2 separate regions of the Homo sapiens genome follow, and region 1 is linked to region 2. The links come from fine-mapping of genetic effects on gene expression. A gene starts in region 2. The other region holds a variant in brackets. All regions are shown on one strand. Distances are between the middles of the regions. Region 1 overlaps GNA15 (G protein subunit alpha 15). Region 2 holds the start of GNA15 (G protein subunit alpha 15).

Region 1 (10,227 bases), 27 kb before region 2:
TGCTGAAAGGATCCAGGGAACCTGGGAGGAAGGGTTGATTCCAAGAGTAGGGCAGGAGATGAGCCTGGAACATCTCAGTGTGCCAGAGAGGGAGGGCGTGATCACAGAGGGAGGAGGACCTGGCAAAGAACACAGGAGCCAGCTCGGAGGGGCTGCTGCCGGCCAACCCTGGGTTAGAAATGGATGGATGACCTCAGCACATGACCCAGCAATTCTGTCGCTAGGGTCACACTCAAGAGGAATGCAAGCATGTCCACTCGAAAACTCACACCTGGCCGGACACAGGGGCTTATGCCTGGAATCCCCGGGGAGGCTGAGGCAGGAGGAACCCTTCAGCCCAGGAGTTGGAGGCAGCAGTGAGCTGAGGTTGCACCACTGCACACCAGCCTGGGTGACGGAGCAAGACCTTGTCTTTAAGGGGAGTAAAAAACAAACAAAACAAAACAAAAAGGCCAAATAGTAAATATTTTTGGCTTTTGGGGCCAGACAGTATCAGTGGCAGTTACTCAATTCCATGGATGCAGGAACAGCCTGCGTAGACACAGGTACATGAATGGACATGACCGTGTTTCAATAAAACTTTACAAAAGCAATTGAAGTAGTATTTGGCCTGTGGGTAGCAGTTTGCCGGCTCCTGACCTGGATGAAAAATACAGGGGAATACATTGTAATGGTTTTGTAACTTCTGTAGGTTTCAAATATTTTTGCACTAAAAATAAGCGAACAAAAGATGTGTTTCCGCAAAGACTTGGAACCAACCCAAATGTCCATCAATGATAGACTGGATTAAGAAAATGTGGCACAGGCCGGGCGTGATGGCTCACGCCTGTAATCCCAGCACTTTGGGAGGCTGAGGCGGGCAGATCACAAGGTCAGGAGATCGAGACCATCCTGGCTGACACGGTGAAACCCCGTCTCTACTAAAAATACAAAAAATTAGCCGGGCTTGCTGGTGGGCGCCTGTAATCCCAGCTACTCAGGAGGCTGAGGCAGGAGAATGGCATGAATCCGGGAGGCGGAGCTTGCAGTGAGCCCAGATTGCACCACTGCACTCCAGCCTGGGTGACAGAGTGAGACTCCGTCTCAAAAAAAAAGAAAAAGAAAATATGGCACATATACACCACAGAATACTATGCAGCCATAAAAAAGGATGAGTTCATGTCCTTTGTAGTGACATGGATGAAGCTGGAAACCATCATTCTGAGCAAACCATCACAAGGACAGCAAACCAAACACCGCATGTTCTCACTCATAGGTGGGAACTGAACAATGAGAACACGTGGACACAGGGTGGGGAACATCACACACCGGGGCCTGTCGTGGGGTGAGGGGAGGGGGGAGGGATAGCATTAGGAGAAATACCTAATGTAAATGACGAGTTAATGGGTGCAGTAAACCAACACAGCACATGTATACCTATGTAATAAACCAGCACAGTTGTGCACATGTACCCTAGAACTTAAAGTATAATAATAAAAAAAAAGACAAGATGTGTTTCCTCACTTGGTGCTCAGATTGTGGTCTCTAAATATCATCTCCCATTCAAAGGAAAGAGGGCTCCTTGGAGAAACGATCCAGTGCAGATCTGAAGCTGACAAAGTAAAGGATGAGTTAAAAGCATCTCGCTGTGCCCAGTCAAAAAACTCTTAAGACCCACTGGGTCATGGCTGGGCACAGTGGCTCACGCCTGTAATCCCAGCACTTTGGGAGGTCGAGGCGGGAGGATCACCTGAGGTCAGGAGTTCGATACCAGCCTGGCCAACATGGCAAAACTCCGTCTCTACTAAAAATATAAAAATTACCTAGGTGTGGTAGCGCATGCCTGTAATCTCAGCTACTCAGGAGGCTGAGGCAAGAGAATCGCTTGAACCCAGGAGGTGCAGGTTGCAGTGAGCTGAGATCACACCACTGCACTCCAGCCTGGGTGACAAGAGTAAAACTCTGTCTCAAAAAAAAAAAAAAAAAAGAGGAGGCTGGGCGCGGTGGCTGACGCCTGTAATTCCAGCACTCTGGGAGGCCAAGGCGGTTGGATCACGAGTTCAGGAGATCGCGACCATCCTGGCTAATACAGTGAAACCCCGTCTCTACTAAAAAATACAAAAAATTACCCGGGCGTGGTGGCGGGTACTTGTAGTCCCAGCTACTCAGGAGGCTGAGGCAGGAGAATGGCATGAACCCGGGAGGCAGAGCTTGTAGTGAGCCGAGATCGCATCACTGCACTCCAGCCTGGGTGACAGAGCAAGACTCCGTCTCAAAAAAAAAAAAAGAGGAAAGAGACTTAAGAGACACAGCACCCAAGCGCCACGCACGGGCTTTGTTTGGGTCCTGACTCCGACCAACCAATGGTGAAAAGACATCCGCAACGTATGATCGCCAGGGATGAGCCACTTTGTCATGATGAACCCAGTCAGGTGATGCCCTGAGTGGCTCTGACATCCCTTTCTGTCACCAGCAAACCTCACACCAACCCAACCTGAGGAACGGCTCAAGAAACAACCAAGCAAAACTCCTCCGACGTGTCACAAAGGAAACTGAGGCACTGCCCCAGAATGAGGAGAGGGAGGCAGCTCATGGCGATGTGGGATCCGGGATTGGATCCTGGTCCAGGAAAGGAGGACGGGAGCGAGAACCCGCCACATTCTAGTAAGGTCTACACACAGGTTCGTTCATAGGACGCTCGCTGATGTGAATTTCCTGGGTTGTACTAGGGTTACGTAAGAGGTAAGAGGAAGCTGGGTGGAGGGCATTTGGGAACTGTGTACAACTTCTGCAACTTTTCTGTGAGTCTAAAATTCTTACAAAACAACAACAAGAGGCAGAGCGCGGTGGCTCACACCTGTAATCCCAGCACTTCGGGAGGCCGAGGCGGGCGGATCACAAGGTCAGGAGATTGAGACCATCCTGGCTAACACGGTGAAAGCCCGTCTCTACTAAAAATACAAAAAATTAGCCAGGCGTGGTGGCGGGCGCCTGTAATCCCAGCTACTCGGGAGGCTGAGGCAGGAGAATGGTGTGAACCTGGGAGGCGGAGCTTGCAGTGAGCCGAGATCACACCACTGCACTTCCAGCCTGGGTGACAGAGTGAGACTCCGTCTCAAAAAAAAAACAGAAAGATAGGATGTGGTGAGAAGGGCTGTCACCACTGAGGTCTTCCTCCCTGAAACCCATCACCCCAGTCTGACCAGCAGCAAAATGTCAGACCAAACTCAGTGGAGAGGGTTTCTATAACATACTTTTATATTTATTTATTTATTTATGTATTTATTTATTTATTATTTGAGACAAGGTCTCACTCTGTCGCTCAGGCTAGAGTGCAGTGGCAGGATCTTGGCTCACCGCAACCTCCGCCTCCCGGGTTCAAGCAACTCTCATGCTTCAGCCTCCCAATTAGCTGGGATTGCAAGCATGCACCACCACGCCCGGCTCCTTTTTGTATTACAAAATACCTTTTATAGGTTCAAATGTGGCTCCCCTACAAAGATA[T/G]GATGAAGTCATAACCCCCGGTATCTGTGAATGGGACCTTATTTAGAAATACGGTCTTTGCCGATGTAATCAAGTTAAGATGGGGATGACAGGCTGGACCCTGATCCAGTGTGACTAGTGTTTTTATAAGAAGAAAAATTAGGCCAGGTGTGGTGGCTCATGCCTGTAATCCCAGCACTTTGGGAGGTCGAGGGAGGCGGATCACTTGAGGTCAGGAGTTTGAGACCAGTTTGGCCAACATGGTGAAACCCTGTCTCTACTAAAAATACAAAAATATGGCCAGGTGTGATGGCACACAACTGTAGTCCAAGCTACTCAGGAGGCTGAGGCAGGAGAATCACTTGAACCTGGGAGGTGGAGGTTGCAGTGAGACGAGATTGCGCCACTGCACTCCAGCCTGGGCCACAGAGCGGGACTCCATCAAAAAAAAAAAAAGTAGCCAGGTGTGGTGGCGGGTGCCTGTAATCTCAGCTACTGCAGAGGCTGAGGCATGAGAATCACTTGAACCCAGGAGGCAGAGGCTGCAGTGAACCGAGATCGCACCACTGCACTCCAGCCTGGGCAACCAAGTGAGATTGTCTCAAAAAACAAACAAATAAAAAACCACAAATGTGTTCAACGTAGGAACAGGCTCCTGCCTCTGTCAATTCCAGGTGTGTGAGCTTAGTCAAATTACTCCACTTCTCTGCGCCCCGGTTTCCTCACCTGTAAAGTGGGGTGCTACGGCTTGCACCCCAGAACACTGCCCTGAGGATAGTAAGAGGCCTTCTCAAAGCTGGGTGGGGGCTGCTACTGGAATTTCAGGTCAGTAGCCACGGAGGAGTCTGCTTCAATGTCCCCCCCAGCCTGGGAGGGAGGTTGGACTCCACGTCCCGGCTTGCGGGACTCACAGCCTCCACAGTTCTGGGTACCATGGCCAGGACAGGTGGGTAGACAAGAAGTATAACTTTTTTCCTTCCTACTCCACGTTGCTCCCCGCACTGTAAGCACTGCCCCCGGGACACGTAAGCCGAGAAAGGAATGCAGAGGGGATAAACAGGACGCTGGCGACGCAGCCTCTAAGAAATCTTTAATTTCAGCCCGCACGGAGCCCTGCAGAAGGTGAGGGAATAAATACAAAAGGTTAAGATGCAGCATGCCCAGCCCCCAGCCTGCAAGGGATGGGGGGATGCTTGTGGGCCGCGATTTCTCTCGTCCGCAAACCGGGGCAGGACACGCTGTGAGCCACCGAGCTCTGAAAGTGACAGTGTTTTCCAGCGGTCTGTTACCCCTTGCAAAGGGAAGTCCCTGCACCCCTAGTCCACAGGTTCCTGGAAGGCGTTCCTTCTCCTGTCCACTAGAGTGCGCCAGAGTCCACGCCCGAAGGCGCCTGAAGGCTCTACTAGCCCCATCCCAGGGTGTGCGTCACCCACAGAGGGTCCCAGAACCCTGCCCAGGAGGTGACACGCCCGGAGATGGGGCTCCTGAGAGATGCCCACCCACCCAAGTCCTCAATCCCCTGATTTCTTCACCTTTTCATCCACCCTGGCATCCCAAATGGCCGTTTTGCTCCTTCCCTTTCAAAGGAGGGAAACTGAGTCAAGCAAGGGCAGGAGTACCCTGGGGGGCGGCTGTCCTGGTGAGAGGCAGAGAAGAGAGCGGCCAGCAGCGGGCCGTCCGTCCCCCGACTCCCTTGCGTGTGGGCCGAGGCTGGAGAGATAGACCAGGGACACTAGGGGTCCCTGCAGCCACTCCCACCTCCCACCCGCCCGCCGGTGCCGCCTGCCCCAGGTGGGGCCTGGGTCACAGCAGGTTGATCTCGTCCAGGTAGCGGGCGAGCACCGAGTCCCGCACGTCCTTGAAGACCTTGCGGATGTTCTGTGTGTCTGTGGCACATGTGTAGTGGCTGAAGAGGCGTCGGGATCGTGCGCCCTTCTTGCTGCCCTCGGGGCCGTCCACGCACCCGGTGTACATCCTCGTGTACATGTCCAGGATGAACCTCTTGGCTGCCTCAGCATCCTGCTTAGGGCCTGGGGAAACAGTGTGGGAAGGGGGTGAGGACCCTCCCTCTTTGGACCCAGGGGGCCTCTGGAGACCCTCTTCCCTGTAACCAGCACTGAAGGGACCCAGGGATCGCGCCTGTCATTTTTCTGTGCGTTGACTCCATCTTTTGTAGTCATAGCTGGTCACACGACTCCGGCCCAGCCAATGGGAACACAGGAGATTGTCTCACACGAGTCATGTGACCTGAAATGGACCAATGAGACCCAGCTCTGGGACTTCGGGCAGAACTGTGTTAAAGAGAGACACTCTCTTGGCCTCGCTTACAGCCAGTGCAGTTGGAAGACTGGAATCGCATAGACAAATATCCCAGGACTGTGAAGATGGCGGCATCAAGGCCAAACGAGGGGAAGAGAGTCCTCTTTTTTTTTTTCTTGAGATGGGGCCTCGCTCTGTCGCCCAGGCTGGAGTGCAATGGTGCAATCTTGGCAGTAGCTGGGATTACAGGCGCCTGCCACCATGCCCAGGTAATTTTTGTATTTTTAGTAGAGATGGGGTTTTGCCATGTTGGCCAGGCTGGTCTCGAACTCCTGACCTCAAATGATCAGCCCGCCTTGACCCCCCCAAAGCGCTGGGATTACAGGCGTGAGCCACTGTGCCCAGCCCTGCATAGGGTTTTAACATGAAGATTAAAGAAGCTTTGTAGAGTGCTTCCACCAGTGCGGTAGATGTGTTAGCTGCTGTTATCAATTTTATTATTATTATCATTATTATTATTATTATTATTTTGAGACAGAGTCTCACTCTGTCACCCAGGTTGGAGTGAAGTGGCATGATCTCAGCTCACTGCAACCTCCACCTCCTGGGTTCAAGCGATTCTCCTGCCTCAGCCTCCCGAGTAACTGGGATGACAGGCCCCCGCCACCACACCCAGCTAATTTTTGTATTTTTAACAGAGATGGGGCTTTGCCATGTTGGCCAGGCTGGTCTCAAACTCCTGACCTAAAGCGATCTGCGCGCCTCAGCCTCCCAAAGTGTGGTTTCTTATTATTATCACAAATATTATTTAGCACAGTGGAGGGTAGGGCTGGGAGTCAGCAAAGAGTGCACCAGTCACTTGTGCTGGGAGACAAGGATGAGTCATGGGTGGTTCCCTTTGACCTGAATGAAAAAAATATCTACCTTATCCTGTTCCCAAATTCTCTAAACTATGAGCTGATTCCCAGGGCTGCTTGGCAAGGAAGAGGGGCTATCCAGGCCACCATCCTGGAACAACTTGACGTCTATCTCCCAGACCCTGAATCTTGTGGGTATAATTGGCTAAAATTGGCCTCATGGGCTCTGAGACATGACAAGACCAGGGATCAAAACCTGGTGACTTCACCAAAGTTTATGTTTACTGATTGTGGACCTGGTGTCAAGCATGTACTAAGGACTCATCTACTATGGTTGCTTGTATATTGAGGTGAACAGTGTCCCCCAAAATTCATGTCCACCTGGAACTTCAGAATATGACTTTTAGAAATCGGATATTTGCAGATGTAATTAGTTAAGTTAAATTAGGTCATGGCCAGGCATGAGGGCTCACGCCTGTAATCCTAGCACTTTGGAAGGCCAAGGCAGGTGGATGACAGATGTGTGGTTGGGCCCAGGAGTTCCAGATCAGCCTGGGCAACATGGCGAAACCCTGTCTCTACAGAAATATACAAAAATTACCCAGGTGTGGTGGTGTGCGCCTGTAGTCCCAGCAACTCAAGAGGCTGAGGTGGGAGGATCACCTGTGCCCAGGAGGTTGAGGCTGCAGTGAACTGTGATCACACCACTGGACTCTAGCCTGGGCAACAGAGCAAGACCTTGTCTCAAAAAAAAAAAAAAAAAAAAAAAGTGGTCATACCAAAGTATGGGCCCTAAATCCAATGACTGGTGGCCTTATAACAACAGGAGAGGACACATAAAGGCATGGTGAGAAGACAGCCATGTGAACATGGAGGCAGAGATTGCAGTGATATGTCTACAAGCTAAGGATTGTAGGCCACCACCAGAAGCTGAGAGAGAAGCATGGAATGGATTTTCCCTTAGAGCCTCCAAAAGGAACCAACCTTGCCAATACCTTAACTTTGGACTTCTGTTGTTTCCTGTTGTTTTAAGCCACCCAGTTTGTGGTACTTTGTTACGGCATCCCCAGGACATGAAGGCAAGTTATCTCCAAGATGGCTGCCGTCACTTCCTTCCCTCCCTGTATGCATGTGTCATGCTGCCTTCAAGAGATGGAGTCTCTTTCTTTTGAATCCGGGCTGATATGAGTGATGTGCTTGACAAATAGAATGTGGCAGAGTAACGTCTGACATTTCTGAGGCTATCATGAGAAGCAGCTTCCACCTGGGCTGAAGTCTGTCTACCCTGAGGCAGCCATATTGTGAGTAAGCTCAAACCATGTGAAGAGGCTGTGGATCATGAGGCCCCAGATGGAGACAGAGAGAACAGGGGAGGTGGAAAAGGAGAGACAGACTAGGAGAAAGGGGAGGAGAGAGAGATGAGATGGGAGAGGGAGGCAGGGAGAGACACAGAGAGAGAGGCCAAGAGTGCCAAGAGCACCAAGGCACCAGACATATGGGGGAAGAAGCCATCTTGGAAGTTTATCTCCAATCCCATAGAGCCCAGCTGATGTCACATGGATCAGAGATGAACTTACCCAGCTCAACCTTTCCCAAATTCCTGACCCACAAAATCATAAGCAAAGGAAAATGACCAGTTTAAGTCACTAAGTTTGGGGATGGTTTGTTACTCGGCAGTAGCTAAGCAGGACACCCGCCACCACACTTTATCCTCACAGTGGTGTTCTGGGGAAAGTGCTAGTGAATATGTACCTTCCCCACGTTGGTCCCTGGATTAACCACAACTCTGCCTCCCCTTTGTAAAATATACTAAGTGGTGCCCAACACTAGATGGTGTTTCTCTGTAGTTGCCCTGTGGCCCTTTCACCCTCTGGATGGACTGAGAGTTTGTTCCCAAACCTGTTTTTGCCCATTGTACGTGTCTTGATTCATATGTAATTAAAAGAAACGTTATGCAAATCTGTAGCTACAAGTGCCGCATGAAAGAAGGTCATTGTATTACAAAACTAAGCTGTGTGCTTTGGAAACATTGTTCAAAGCTCTGCTTTAAAAATTAAAGAGAAAGGCCAGGTGTGGTGGCTCACGCCTGTAATCCCAGCACTTTGAGGCCGAGGCGGGTGGATCACCTGAGGTCGGGAGTTCAAGTCCAGCCTGACCAACATGGAGAAACCCCGTCTCTACTAAAAACACAAAATTAGCCGGGGTGGTGGCTCATGCCTGCAATCCCAGCTACTCGGGAGGCTGAGGCAGGAGAATCCCTTGAACCCGGGAGGCGGAGGTTGCGGTGAGCCGAGATTGTGCCATTGCACTCCAGCCTGGGCAAAAAGAGCAAAACTCCATCTCAAAAAAAAAAAAAAAAAGAAAAGAAATTAAAGAAAAAATAGACTGGGCACGATGGCTCACGCCTGTAATCCCAGCACTTTGGGAGGCCGAGACAGGTGGATCATGAGGTCAGGAGATTGAGACCAACCTGGGTAACATGATGAAACCCCATCTCGACCAAAAATACAAAAAACTAGCCAGACGTTCTGGCGGGCACCTGTAATCCCAGCTACTCGGGAGGCTGAGGCAGCAGAATGGTGTGAACCCAGGAGGCAGAGCTTGCAGTGAGCTGAGATTGCGCCACTGCACTCCAGCCTGGGCAGCAGAGCGAGACTCCGTCTCAAAAAACAAACAAAAAAAAATTAAAGAAAAAATGGATTAAAGAAAAAGAAATTGCTATCCAATTAGGGATAGATGAGATCACTATGAAAGATTAGAAAAAGAAACGTTATGGCCAGATGCGGTGGCTCACGCCCGTAATCCCAGCACTTTGGGAGGCTGAGGTAGGTGGATCACTTGAGGTCAGTTCGAGACCAGCCTGACCAACATGGTGAAACCCCATCTCTACTAAAAATAGGACAGGAAACTACTAAAAATTAGCCAGGCTTGGTGGCACGTGCCTGTAATCACAGCTACTTGGGAGGCTAAGGCAGGAGAATCACTTGAACCGGGGAGTTGGAGGTTGCCATGAGCCAAGATCGCACCACTGTACTCCAGCCTGGGTGACAGAGTGAGACTCTGTCTCAAAAAGAAAAAATAGAAGAAAGAAAGAAAAGAAAAAGAATCATTCTTAAAACCTAGGCAGATTCTGGAAATAGTAGACAATCTTTCCAGAAGTGCTTTACAACAGTGACCTCTACATAGCAAACCCATGCTTGAAGGATCTTGGCTCAAACCCCAAATGTTGGCCAACAAGCATAAAATAAAATGTTTGGCCGGGCATGGTGGCTCCTGTCTATAATCCTAGCACTTTGGGAGGCTGAGGCGGGTGGATCAGGAGGTCAAGTGATCGAGACTATCCTGGTCAACATGGTGAAATCCCGTCTTTTCGTACTAAAAACACAAAAATTAGCTGGGCGTGGTGGCGCGCACCTGTAGTTCCAGCTACTAGGGAGGCTGAGGTAGGAGAATCGCTTGAACTCTGGAGGGAAAGGTTGCAGTGAGCCGAGATCACGCCACTGCACTCCAGCCTGGTGACAGAGCAAGACTCTGTCTCAAAAATAAATAAATAAATAAAATGTTTAAGGTGTACGTGATATGCTACGTGTTTTTAGAATTCCTCACTTTACTCAGTTCCAAGGGCCTCTGCTATTTTATTCCATTCCAC
Region 2 (11,234 bases):
GTTTTAGGATACCCCCAAAGGCCATGCGGCCCAGACGGGAAGTTCCTGCTTCCTCCTGGGCACGGAGGAGGACAGGAGGAAGTGGAACCGGCAGATGCCAGGAAGGAACTGGGTTAACCGTGCCAAGCCCCAGTCATCACAAGGCAACTGGAGCCAGCTATGTGCACAGAGTCCAGCACCAGGCCCTCACAGGAAACGCAGCTGCTGGGGAAGTGGGGAGCCAGGCCAGGCAGCCGCAGGGGCAGGAGGCTCGGCCTCTCAGTCCCGCTCTGGCTCAAACTAGCTGCTGACCCCCAATCAATCCTGCTGCCTCCTTGGGCCTCATTTTCCCCATCTGGCACTGGGGTTCTGTGGTGTTTCTGTCCCCCAAGGCAGGCGAACAGGGCAGTCAGGAGCATGGACTTTGGAACCAGAATTCTAGGTGCGAGTCTCAGCTGTGTGACCTTGGGCAAGTCGCTCTGCCTCTCTGAGCCTCAGTTTATCCTTTGGGGGAAACTAGGAGTGCCTGCCTCAAAGTGCTAAGAACAGGCCGGGCACAATGGCTCACATCTCTAATCTCGTCACTTTGGGGAGGCCAAGGCAGATGGATCACCTGAGGTCAGGAGTTCGAGACCAGCCTGGCTAACATGGTGAAACCCCGTCTCTACTAAAAATACAAAAATTAGCTGGGCATGATGGTGCACACTTGTAGTCCCAGCTACTCAGGAAGCTGAGGCAAGAGGATTGCTTGAACCCAGGAGGCAAAGGTTGCCGTGAGCCGAGATCGCACCACTGCACTCCAACCGGGGTGATAGAGTAAGACTCTGTCTCAAAAATAAAAATAAAAAATAAAATGTTTAAAGTGCTAAGGACATAACTGGTCCCTTTCACAGCTTTATTTTCCTGTTTTTGTTGTTGTTCACTTTCTTTTCTTTTCTTTTTTTGTTTTTGTTTAGAGACTGGGTCTCGCAATGTTGTCCAGGCTGGTCTTGAACTCCTGGGCTCAAGCAATCCTCCTGCCTTAGCCTCCCGAGTAACTGGGACTACAGGTATGTGCCACCATACCCGGCTCACGGCTTCATTCTGACTCTCCCCCTTCCCCAATATGAGGGTTGCTTCATGTCAGGGACAGACCCACCCCCACCCTGGTCCTTTTTGCCATCTTCCTCAAAAGGATCAGCCACCTCCAGGTAAAAAAAAAACAGCTTTTGGATTCAATTCCTGTTTCCAAGAAGGGACAGAGGTCTGGAGGTTGCCCTCAGACCTGTCTCCAGGGATGAGGTGGTTTAAACCACAGTCCACAGTGCTACATCAGTGCCTGGGGACATGGATGTCATCCCCTGCCCTCCATCAGTAGAAGGGGCTTCCTGCTTTGAGGCTGGCTGAGTAGTGCCCAGAGTGGTATGTGGAAGGGACTTTCCCAGCTCCAGGAAGATATGATACAGTGTCTGGGGGAAGTTCTCCCCAAAAATGATTCATTCATTCATTCATTCATTCATTCAGCATTTCTTGAGCATCTACTATATGGCAGGCTCATTGTACACCTGTGCTAGATGCTGGAGACACAGGGATGAAGAAGACAGATGTGGTCCCTACCCTTTTGTTGCTTGCTGTATAGCTGGAGAGATAAACAATAAACAAGTGAACAAATAGTGAGGGCCAGGAAGAAAAATCAAACAGAGTAAGGGGAAGGAGAAGATAGGACTGTCTTTATAGCTAGGGTAGTCAGGGAAGACTTCTCTGAGGAGGCGACACTTGGGTTGAGACCTACATGGAGTGAAAGGGCCAGCCAGGCAAAGGTCAGGGATAAATGACCTTGAGGTATTCGAGGAAAGAGCACTAAAAGTGATAAACCCCTAGCTTGATAGATCAAGAAAAAAATGAGCAAAGGCAGAAATGATCGATACCAAGAGCAAAAGAGAGGACATCACTGCAGATCCTACAGACAGTAGCAGGAGAACAAGGGAACGTTATAAATGTTATGCCAATAAATTTGATAACACAGGCAAAATGGACAAATTATTTGAAAGACACAAATGATCAAAACCCACACAAGAAGAAGTAGATAGCCTAAGTAGCCCTATTTATTTAAAATAATAAGACATATCGATATGATACGTCATAATGTGACATAATATGACACATTAATATGTCAAATATAGATAGATAGATAGATAGATAGATAGATAGATAGATAGATTTTTTTTTTTTGAGATGGAGTTTCACTCTTATTGCCTAGGCTGGAGTTCAGTGGTGTGATCTTGGCTCACTGCAACCTCTGCCTCCAAGTTAGAGCAATTCTCCTGCCTCACCCTCCCAAGTAGCTGGGACTACAGGTGCGCACCACCACGCCTGGCTAATTTTTGTATTTTTAGTAGAGATGGGGTTTCACCACATTAGCCAGGATGGTCTCCATCTCCTGACCTCGTGATCCACCCTCCTCGGCCCCCCAAAGTGCTGTGATTGCAGGCGTGAGCCACCGCACCCAGCCCTGATTTTTTATATTTTTAGTAGAGACGGGGTTTCATCGTGTTAGCCAGGATGTTCTCAACCTCCTGACCTCATGATCTGCCCACCTCGGCCTCCCAAAGTGCTGGGATTACAGGCATGAGCCACTGCACCCGGCATTTTTTTTTTTTTTTTTTTGAGACAGAGTCAGCTTTGCTCTGTCACCCAGGCTGGAGTGCAGTGGCATGATCATAGCTCACTGCAGCCTCAACCTCCCAGGCTCAAGTGATCCTCTCACCTCAGCCTCCCAAGTAGTTGGAACTACAGTTGCGCACCACCATGCCTGGCTAATTATTTTATTTATTTATTTTTTTTAGAGACTGGGTCTTGCTAAGTTGCCCAGGCTGGTCTGAAACTCCTAAGCTCAAGCAATCCTCCCACCTAGGCCTCCCAAAGTGCTAAGATTACAGGAATGAACCACTATGCCCTGCTGAGATATTCTTTTATCTCGTTCAGTAAGAGGGATCAAGGCTAGAGTTGAAAGGGCCCTTGACTGGGTGCAGTGGCTCACGCCTGTAATCCCCACACTTTGGGAGGCCAAGGTGGTAGGATCACCTGAGGTCAGGGGTTCGAGACCAGCCTGGCCAACATGGTGAAACCCCATCTCTACTAAAAATACAAAAATTAGCCAGGTGTGGTAGTGCGCACCAGTAGTCCCAGCTGCTCAGGAGACTGAGGCAGGAGAATCACTTGAACCCAGGAGGCGGAGGTTGCAGTGAGCTGAGATCTCACCACTGCACTCCAACCTGGGGGACAGAGCAAGACTCAATCTAAAAAAAAAGAAAAAAAAAAAAAAAGAGGCTGGGCGCGGTGGCTCACGCCTGTAATCCCAACACTTCGGGAGGCCAAGGCGGGTTGATCACCAGGTCAGGAGTTCGAGACCAGCCTGGCCAACATGGTGGAACCCCATCTCTACTAAAAATACAAAAAAAAAAAAAATTAACTGGGCGTGGTGGCGCGTGCCTATAATCCCAGCTACTCAAGAGGCTGAGACAGGAGAATTGCTTGAACCCGGGAGGCGGAGGTTGCAGTGAGTTGAGATCGCACCACTGCACCCCAGCCTGGGTGACAGAGCAAGACTCCGTCTCAAAAAAATAAAAATAAAAATAAGAAAAGAAAAAAGAAAGAAAGGGCCCCCAGTGAAGGTGCAGTTCCTGGGGGTCCCCACCATCCCACTCGATGTTCTCTCTCTTTCCTCTCGGGCGGCCTCTTCCCACTGAACGAGGAAAGGACGATAGCAACCATCACGGGATGATCAAGCTCTTTGCCCGGGGCAGACAAACGCGAGTCCAGAAGACTTGAGACCTTCTCCAGCCCCCAACCCAGAGCTCGGGGATCCCAGAAGACCCTCCCAGGCTAGCATCCCGGGCTTAGGCCAACGGGGCCATAATCAGGGAAAGGTAATTGGGGAAACAAGCTACGGGAATGAGAAGACCCCGAGGTTTCAGAGATCAGAATTTTTTTTTTTTTGAGACGGAGTTTTGTTCTTGTTGCCCAGGCTGGGGTGCAATAGTGCAATCCTGGCTCACTGCAGCCTCCACCTCCTGGTTTCAAGCGATTCTCCTGCCTCAGCCTCCCCAGTAGCTGGGATTACAGGCACATGCCACCACACCCGGCTAATTTTTTTGTATTTTGAGTAGAGACGGGGTTTCGCCACGTTGACCAGGCTGATTTCGAACTCCTGGCCTCAAGTGATCTGCCCGCCTTGGCGTCCCAAAGTGCTGGGATTACAGGCATGATTTATTTATTTATTTTATTTATATTTATTTATTTATTGACAATGAGTCTTGCTCTGTCATCCAGGCTGGAGTGCAGTGGCCCGATCTCAGCTCACTGCAACCTCTGCCTCCTGGGTTCAAGCGATTCTCATGCCTCAGCCTCCCGAGTAGCTGGGATTATAGCTGTGTGCCACCATGCCCAGCTAATTTTTGGTTTTGTTTGTTTGTTTATTTGTTTGAGATGGCGTCTCACTCTGTCGCCAGTCTGGAGTGCAGTGGCATGATCTCAGCTCACTGCAGTCTCCACCTCCTGGTTTCATGCAATTCCCCTGCCTCAGCCTCCCGAGTAGCAGGGACTACAGGCACGCACCACCACATCTGGCTAATTTTTGGTATTTTGGTAGAGATGGGGTTTCACCGTGTTGGTCAGGCTGGTCTCGATCTCCCGACCTTGTGATCCACCCACCTCGGCCTCCCAAAGTGCTGGGATTACAGGCATGAGCCACCATGCCTGGCAAATTTTTGGTATTTTAGTAGAGACGGGGCTTCACCATGTTGGCCTGGCTGTGTCTTGAACTCCTGACCTCAAGTGATCCCACCCGCCTGGGCCTCCCAAAGTGCTGAAATCACAGGCTTGAGCCACTGCACCCAGCCAGAGTTCAGAATCTTGAACCGTTACTGACGTCGACTCCCCCATCTGAAGCCTCCGCATGGAAGCCATCACCCTGTTTTGTTTTCTCCTAGATAATTCTTGTTGCCAGAATTATTTTATCTGCTTATGAGTTTACAGACTAAATGTCTTGGCTCCTTCACAGGAAATGAGATCCAGGAAGACAGAAATATCTTCCCCTGTTTGGCTGCCTCGTTCCTGGGAGCTACCCAATAAATCTTAAATGAATGAATAATGAATGAATGAACCAATGAACCAATCAATCCATCCTTTCTAGCCCCCAAAGGAGCCCTAGACAAGCCCTCTCCAGCCATGGCAGGGAGGTAAAGGCGAGAGGGAGCGTCCTGGTGAAGGAGAGGCTGGAGCCGGCCCCTCCCTTACGGGTGGGCTGGCCAGAACGGGTTGCACACCTGAGCTCATCATTCCCTCGCCATGACACAGACAGGTAGGGCGTGCTGGGCCTGCCCGGCAGGGGCCCGGTAGAGCCACGTCTGCTATTGTATATGCCCCACACAGTGGACAGGCCTGGGCACCTGGCCGCTGGTCGCACGTTGGACAAGGAACTTGGCTTCTCTGAACCTCAGTCTTTCTCATCTGGAAAATGGGTTCCAGGCTCCCCATTCCCTGGGAGGAGGCGACGGCTCCACGATGCCAATGTCTGACCTAGCCTGATCCGCCTCCTTGCCCCGACACCCCTGCCGGCTGGCCACCGCCCACTGCCCACCACCCACCGCCCACCGACCCTGGACTCACCCAAAAGCAGCAGCTTCAGCTCCCCGCGGTCCTGCTTCTTCTGCTCCAAGAGGATCCTGTTGATCTCCTGGTCCACCCGGGCGGCGGCCTTCTCATCCTCCGTCAGGCACCAGGGGCAGCAGCGCCAGGTCAGCGAGCGGGCCATGGTGCGGTGGCCTCAGTCGGCACCGGGTGGCATCGCCCCCGGGCCCCTGCTGGCCAGGGCAACCCCCAGCCCAGCCGGCCCTGGAGAGGGCTCCGGGCAACCGGGTGCGCAGGGAGGCTGCCTTTTCCTTGGGGGTCACCCCCCAGGGACCTAGACTTCCTTGCCTGAAACACCCAGGAAGCCCGGCTCGGCGGTGGCAAGGCTTGAGTGCTGGGAACAGGGTGGGGACGGGAGGAGGTGGGGAGGCCAGGGCTCCCCGCCCACCTCCAGACCTGCTCAGACCCGGCCCGACAGGTTGACGGTGAAGGGTGCCAGGAGAGGGTGAGGTGGGGGCCCCAGGGAGGGCGGGGCGGTGGCGGGAAAACCCCCACCGCAGACTGGGTCCTGTGTGACCAGCAGGGCCCTTCTTCCTCCTTCTGGAGAAGGGGCGGATTCTCCTCAGGCTTCACCCGGAGCTGTCCCCCTCCTCGGAGCCAATCAGGAACCGTCAGACCCGTGCTACTGCTGATACATTATATATATATCATATATATATGTGTGTGTATATATATATATGTGTATATATATATATATATATATATATATATATATATATATATATATATATTTTTTTTTTTTTTTTTGAGACAGAGTTTCACTCTTATTGCCCAGGCTGGAGTGCAGTGGCAGGATCTTGACTCTGCAACATCTGCCTCCCAGGTTCAAGCAATTCTCCTGCCTCAGCCTCTCGAGTAGCTGGGATTACAGGCATCCACCACCACGCCGGGCTAACTTTGGATTTTTAGTAGAGAAAGGGTTCCACCACGTTGGCCAGGCTGGTCTCAAACTCCTGACCTCAGGTGATCCACCCGCCTCGGCCTCCCAAAGTGCTGGGATTGCAGGCATAAACCACCACGCTCGGCCCTTCTGATATATTTTTAAGAAACAGCTCAGGCCAGGTGTCATGGACTGTTTCCAGCGACTCTGCCCTGACCTCAGGTGATCCACCCTGCAGAGGTGGGCAGCTTGCCTGAGGTCAGGAGTTCGAAACCAGCCTGGCCAACATGGCGAAACCCTGTCTCTACTAAAGATACAAAAATTAGCCGGGTTTTGGCTCACATTAGCTGGTTTTACACTCACATCACCCTGTATAGTTACTACTGTCATCCCTGTTTGACTGATGAGGAGGTTGAGGCATAGAGCAGGGGAGTGACCGGTGGGGCTGGCACAAGGCAGAGCCGGGAGCCTATCCCTCACCTGCGGGGCCCCAGAGTCTAGACGCCTACCAGGCAGATTCCAGGCAGGGCCATCCCTTCATTGTGCGTGCATTCATGGAGCGCCAACTGTGTGCCAGGCACGGTAGCCAAGAGACACAGATCCCAGACCTCCTTACCTAAGGTTCTAGTTAAAGAACAGATAATAAAATAAATTTTAGGCTGGGCCTGGTGGCTCACGCATGTAATCCCTATACTTTGGGAGGCCAAGGCGGGCAGATCACAAAGTCAAGAAATCGAGACCAGCCTGGCCAACACGGCGAAACCCCGTCTCTACTAAAAATACAAAAATTAGCCGGGCGTGGTGGTGCACGCCTGTAGTCCCACCTACTTGGGAGGCTGAGGCAAGAGAATCGCTTGAACCCGGGAGGCAGAGGTGGCAGTGAGCTGAGATCGTGCCACTGCACTCCAGCCTGGCGACGAAGTGAGACTCCATCTCAAAAAAAATAAAAAATAAAAGAATAAAAAATTTGGCCAGGTGAGTGCGGGAGCTCACATCTGTAATCAAAGTACTTTGGGAGGCCGAGGCAGGAGGATCACTTGAAGTCAGGAGTTTGAGACCAGCCTGGCCAACATGGAGAAACTCCATCTCTACTAATACAAAAATTAGTTGGGCATGTTGGCACGCACCAGTAGTCCCAGCTACTTGGGAGGCTGAGGCAAGGGAATCACTTGAACCCCGAAGATGGAGGCTGCAGTGAGCCGAGATCATAACACTGCTCTCCAGCCTGGGCAACATAGTGAAACCCTGTCTCCAGAAACAAACAAAACAAAACTCTCCCTCTCTCTCTATGTATATATATACACACACACACATACATATATATACACATACATATATATACACAATATATAGACACACATACATATATGTATATACACATACATATATACACATACATATATATACACAATATATAGACACACATACATATATACACATACATATATACACACATAAAAGTATACATTTTAATATACATATATGTATATTATACATAAAAATATATATGTGTGTATATATATACACACACGTGTAAAATATATATATTTTTTAATACACCTGAGCCCGTTGGATGGTGAAAAATTCTGCCAGAAAAATTAAGCAGAGATGTTGTTGGGGAAGGTTCAAGGTCATTGCTCTAAATGGATCAACAAAGGTCGCACAGACAAGTGATATTCAGGATCAGAAGTCAGACAGGCAGATCGGGTGTAAGAGGGACTTTGGGAGTGGACCTCACTGGTCAAGGAGATCTTCCCAATGAGTGCCATGAGGCCGCCCTGACCTGATCCCTCTGGGACTTCAGGGCCCTAGGGGTGGGCTGGTGGCTGGCAGCTTGGTAGAAACGTTGCTGCTTCCTAGGTACTCAGAGCCAGAGTGTTTGGGTGAAGATTCCCCACCCCCATTGACAGGCTGTAGAAAATTCTAGAAAGTTCTGGATCAAAACTCTCCTCCCCAAGAGATACACGTAATTCTTGTACTTCGGGGGCCTCTGGTCCCTTTACAGATAGGGCAAGGCACAGAGAGGGCGAATTACGTGCCCAGGGCCACACAGCCATTGGCAGCCACCGTCCCCACCTCCTCCCAGACACCAGGGCTCGGTGACAGCCGTTGACGCAGCTTCACCAGCTCAGCACAAACGTGTGGTTTTCTCCACTGTTGATTCATAACGAATGACAGATGGGAAGTACGATAGGGGCCCCCATCTGGTCACTGGGGCTGGCAGGTGCCATCTGCCCACCCAGCCACCCACCTTCCCGCCCCCAACCGGATAGCAGCAACGAGGGGCAGTCCCACCCAGGACAGGCAAAGAAACGCAGAAATAGGTCATGGCCGTGCAGATCTTCCAGGATGGTTGAAACAGAAATGACCAGCAAAACTGGGAGACGAGGCTGAGCCACAGGCCCCACAGGGTGAGCCCAGGGGGCCACTCTCCTAGCATCTCCCTGCGGCATTTTTGGACAGGATACCAGCACCCGCCATCTTCACAGCCTGGACCAGGGTGGCAGACCCTCTGTGGCTCCCGCTGGCTTCAGAATTAATGAGCCGGCTCCCTGGATCCAGGGCCCAGGCTCTGCCCACTTCTCCAGCTGCTGAACAAACCTCCCTTGCGGTTCCCTAAACGGGCTGAGCTACTTCCTTGCCACATGCTGAGCATTTGTCGTGTATTATTAGCTCAGCTGGGAACACCAGGGTGAGCTTGTGTGTGTAGAAAATATTTCTTTCAGAAAACACATAAAACCTGAATGTATTACCTAATAAATTGTTGTGAAGCCGGTATCCACAGAATCCACTGAGGCCAAGACTAAGGACATTTTCAGGCCGGGCGCGGTGTCTCACGCCTGTCATCCCAGCACTTTGGGAGGCCAAGGTGGGCAGATCACCTGAGGTCAGGAGTTCAAGACCAGCCTGGACAACATGGTGAAACCCCGTCTCTACTAAAAATAGAAAAGTTAGCCAGGTGTGATGGTGCACACCTGTAATCCCAGCTACTCGGGAGGCCGGGGGAGGAGTATTGCTTGAGCCTGGGAGGTGGAGGTTGCAGTGAGCTGAGATCGTGCCACTGCACTCCAGCCTGGGTGACAAGCAAGACTCTGTCTCAAAAAAAAAAAAAAAAAGACCTTAGCCCCACAAAGACCCCTAGTGTTTTCCTCATAGTAATCTCTACCTTCCCAGCAGTAACTATCATTCTGACTTCTGTGGTATTAATATTTATTTCCGGGTTTGGGGGGTATTTTTTGCTAATAAGATCTATTTCAGCTGGGCATGTTGGCTCATGCCTATAATCTCAGCACTTTGGGAGGCTGAAGTGGGAGGATTGCTTGACCCCAGGAGTTCAAGACCAGCCTGGGCAACATAGTGAGACTCTATCTCTTTTTTTCTTTTTTCTTTCTTTCTTTCTTTTTTTTTTTTTTTTTTTTTTTTGAGACGGTGTTTTGTTATTGTTGCCCAGGCTGGAGTGCAATGGCTCGGTCTCAGCTCACTGCAACCTCCACCTTCCCAGTGAGACCCCATTTCTAAAAAATAAAATAAAATAAATTAGCCGGGGGTGGTGGCTCATGCCTGTGGTCCCAGGTACTCCAGAGGCTAAGGTGGGAGGATTGCTTAGGCCAGAGAGGTTGAGGCTGCAGTGAGCTATGATTGACCCACTGCACTCCAGCCTGGGTTGACAGAGCAAGGGTCTGTCCCCCCCAAAAAAAGATCTTGTTTTTAATTGTCTAAATTTATGTAGCATTGTATTTACTTTCTTTGGTGTATGGTTCTATGAGTTTATTTATTTATTTATTTATTTATTTATTTATTGAGACGGAGTCTGTCTCTGTCACCCAGGCTGGAGTGCAGTGGCACGATCTCGGCTCACTGCAAGCTGAGCCTCCCGGGTTCACGCCATTCTGCTGCCTCAGCCTCCCGAATAGCTGGGACTACAGGTGCCCACCACCACGCCGGGCTAATTTTTTTTGTATTTTAGTAGAGACGGGGTTTCACCATGTTGTCCAGACTGGTCTCGATCTCCTGACGTCGTGATCCGCCCGCCTCGGCCTCCCAAAGTGCTGGGATTACAGGCGTGAGCCACCGCGCCCGGCCTGGTTTCTATGAGTTTTAACAGCTGTAGAGATTCGTGTAAATTACTGCTATAAACAGGATACAGAATGTAGTTCCATCACCGGAACAACTCCCTCCTGACCGTGGATTGGCTCTTTGTGGCTGTGTTTTTTGTTTGTTTGTTTGTTTTGGTGTTTTTTTTTTTGTTTTTTTTTTTCTCAGCCAGCTGTGCTTTATTGACAACGCGCCACTCGGGCCTTGACCGCGCACTTCCGCACTGGGGACAGCTGCTCGCTCTGCTGCTGCTTCTTGATCGTCAGGTTCTCCTCGTGCTTGCTGAGCGGGCGGCGCACGGCGCGTGTCTTCTTAGGCCGCAGGTGCAGGTGCTTGTACTTCTTGCCCTTGTAGAATTTCCCGAGGTTTTCTTTCTGAGTCTGGTTAATAACCGTGAGAACACGGGCAATGGATTTGCGGACGACTCGGATCTTTTTTTTTTTTTTTTTTTTTTTTTTTTTTTGAGACAGAGTCTCCCTCTGTCGCCCAGGCAGAAGCGCAATGGCGAGATCTCGGCTCTCTGCAAGCTCCGCCTCCCGGGTTCACCCCATCCTCCTGCCTCAGCCTCCCGAGTGAGTAGCTGGGATTACAGCCGCCCGCCACCACGCCC

What was found. PIP is the estimated chance that this variant, and not a neighbour inherited with it, causes the effect.
Region 1: its variant is fine-mapped to the expression of GNA15 in whole blood (INTERVAL, PIP above 0.99).

Annotation. Positions count from the first base shown.
Region 1 is chr19:3,158,058-3,168,284 of GRCh38, reverse strand. GNA15 (G protein subunit alpha 15) reads right to left here. Exons shown (of 7, transcript NM_002068.4): 7 at 4,536-5,492. The coding sequence ends at 5,266. Among named protein-coding and RNA genes, the nearest start is that of GNA15-DT, 8.0 kb to the right of the region's middle. RefSeq lists enhancers at 4,014-4,874, 4,875-5,736, 5,540-5,834. The variant T/G (reference allele first, on the strand shown) is at 3,484.
Region 2 is chr19:3,130,990-3,142,223 of GRCh38, reverse strand. It overlaps GNA15 (G protein subunit alpha 15), which reads right to left and starts at 6,191. Exons shown (of 7, transcript NM_002068.4): 1 at 5,629-6,191. The coding sequence starts at 5,773. It overlaps GNA15-DT (GNA15 divergent transcript), which reads left to right. Exons shown (of 4, transcript NR_110670.1): 4 at 1-648. It also overlaps the pseudogene RPL35P10. RefSeq lists an enhancer at 178-678.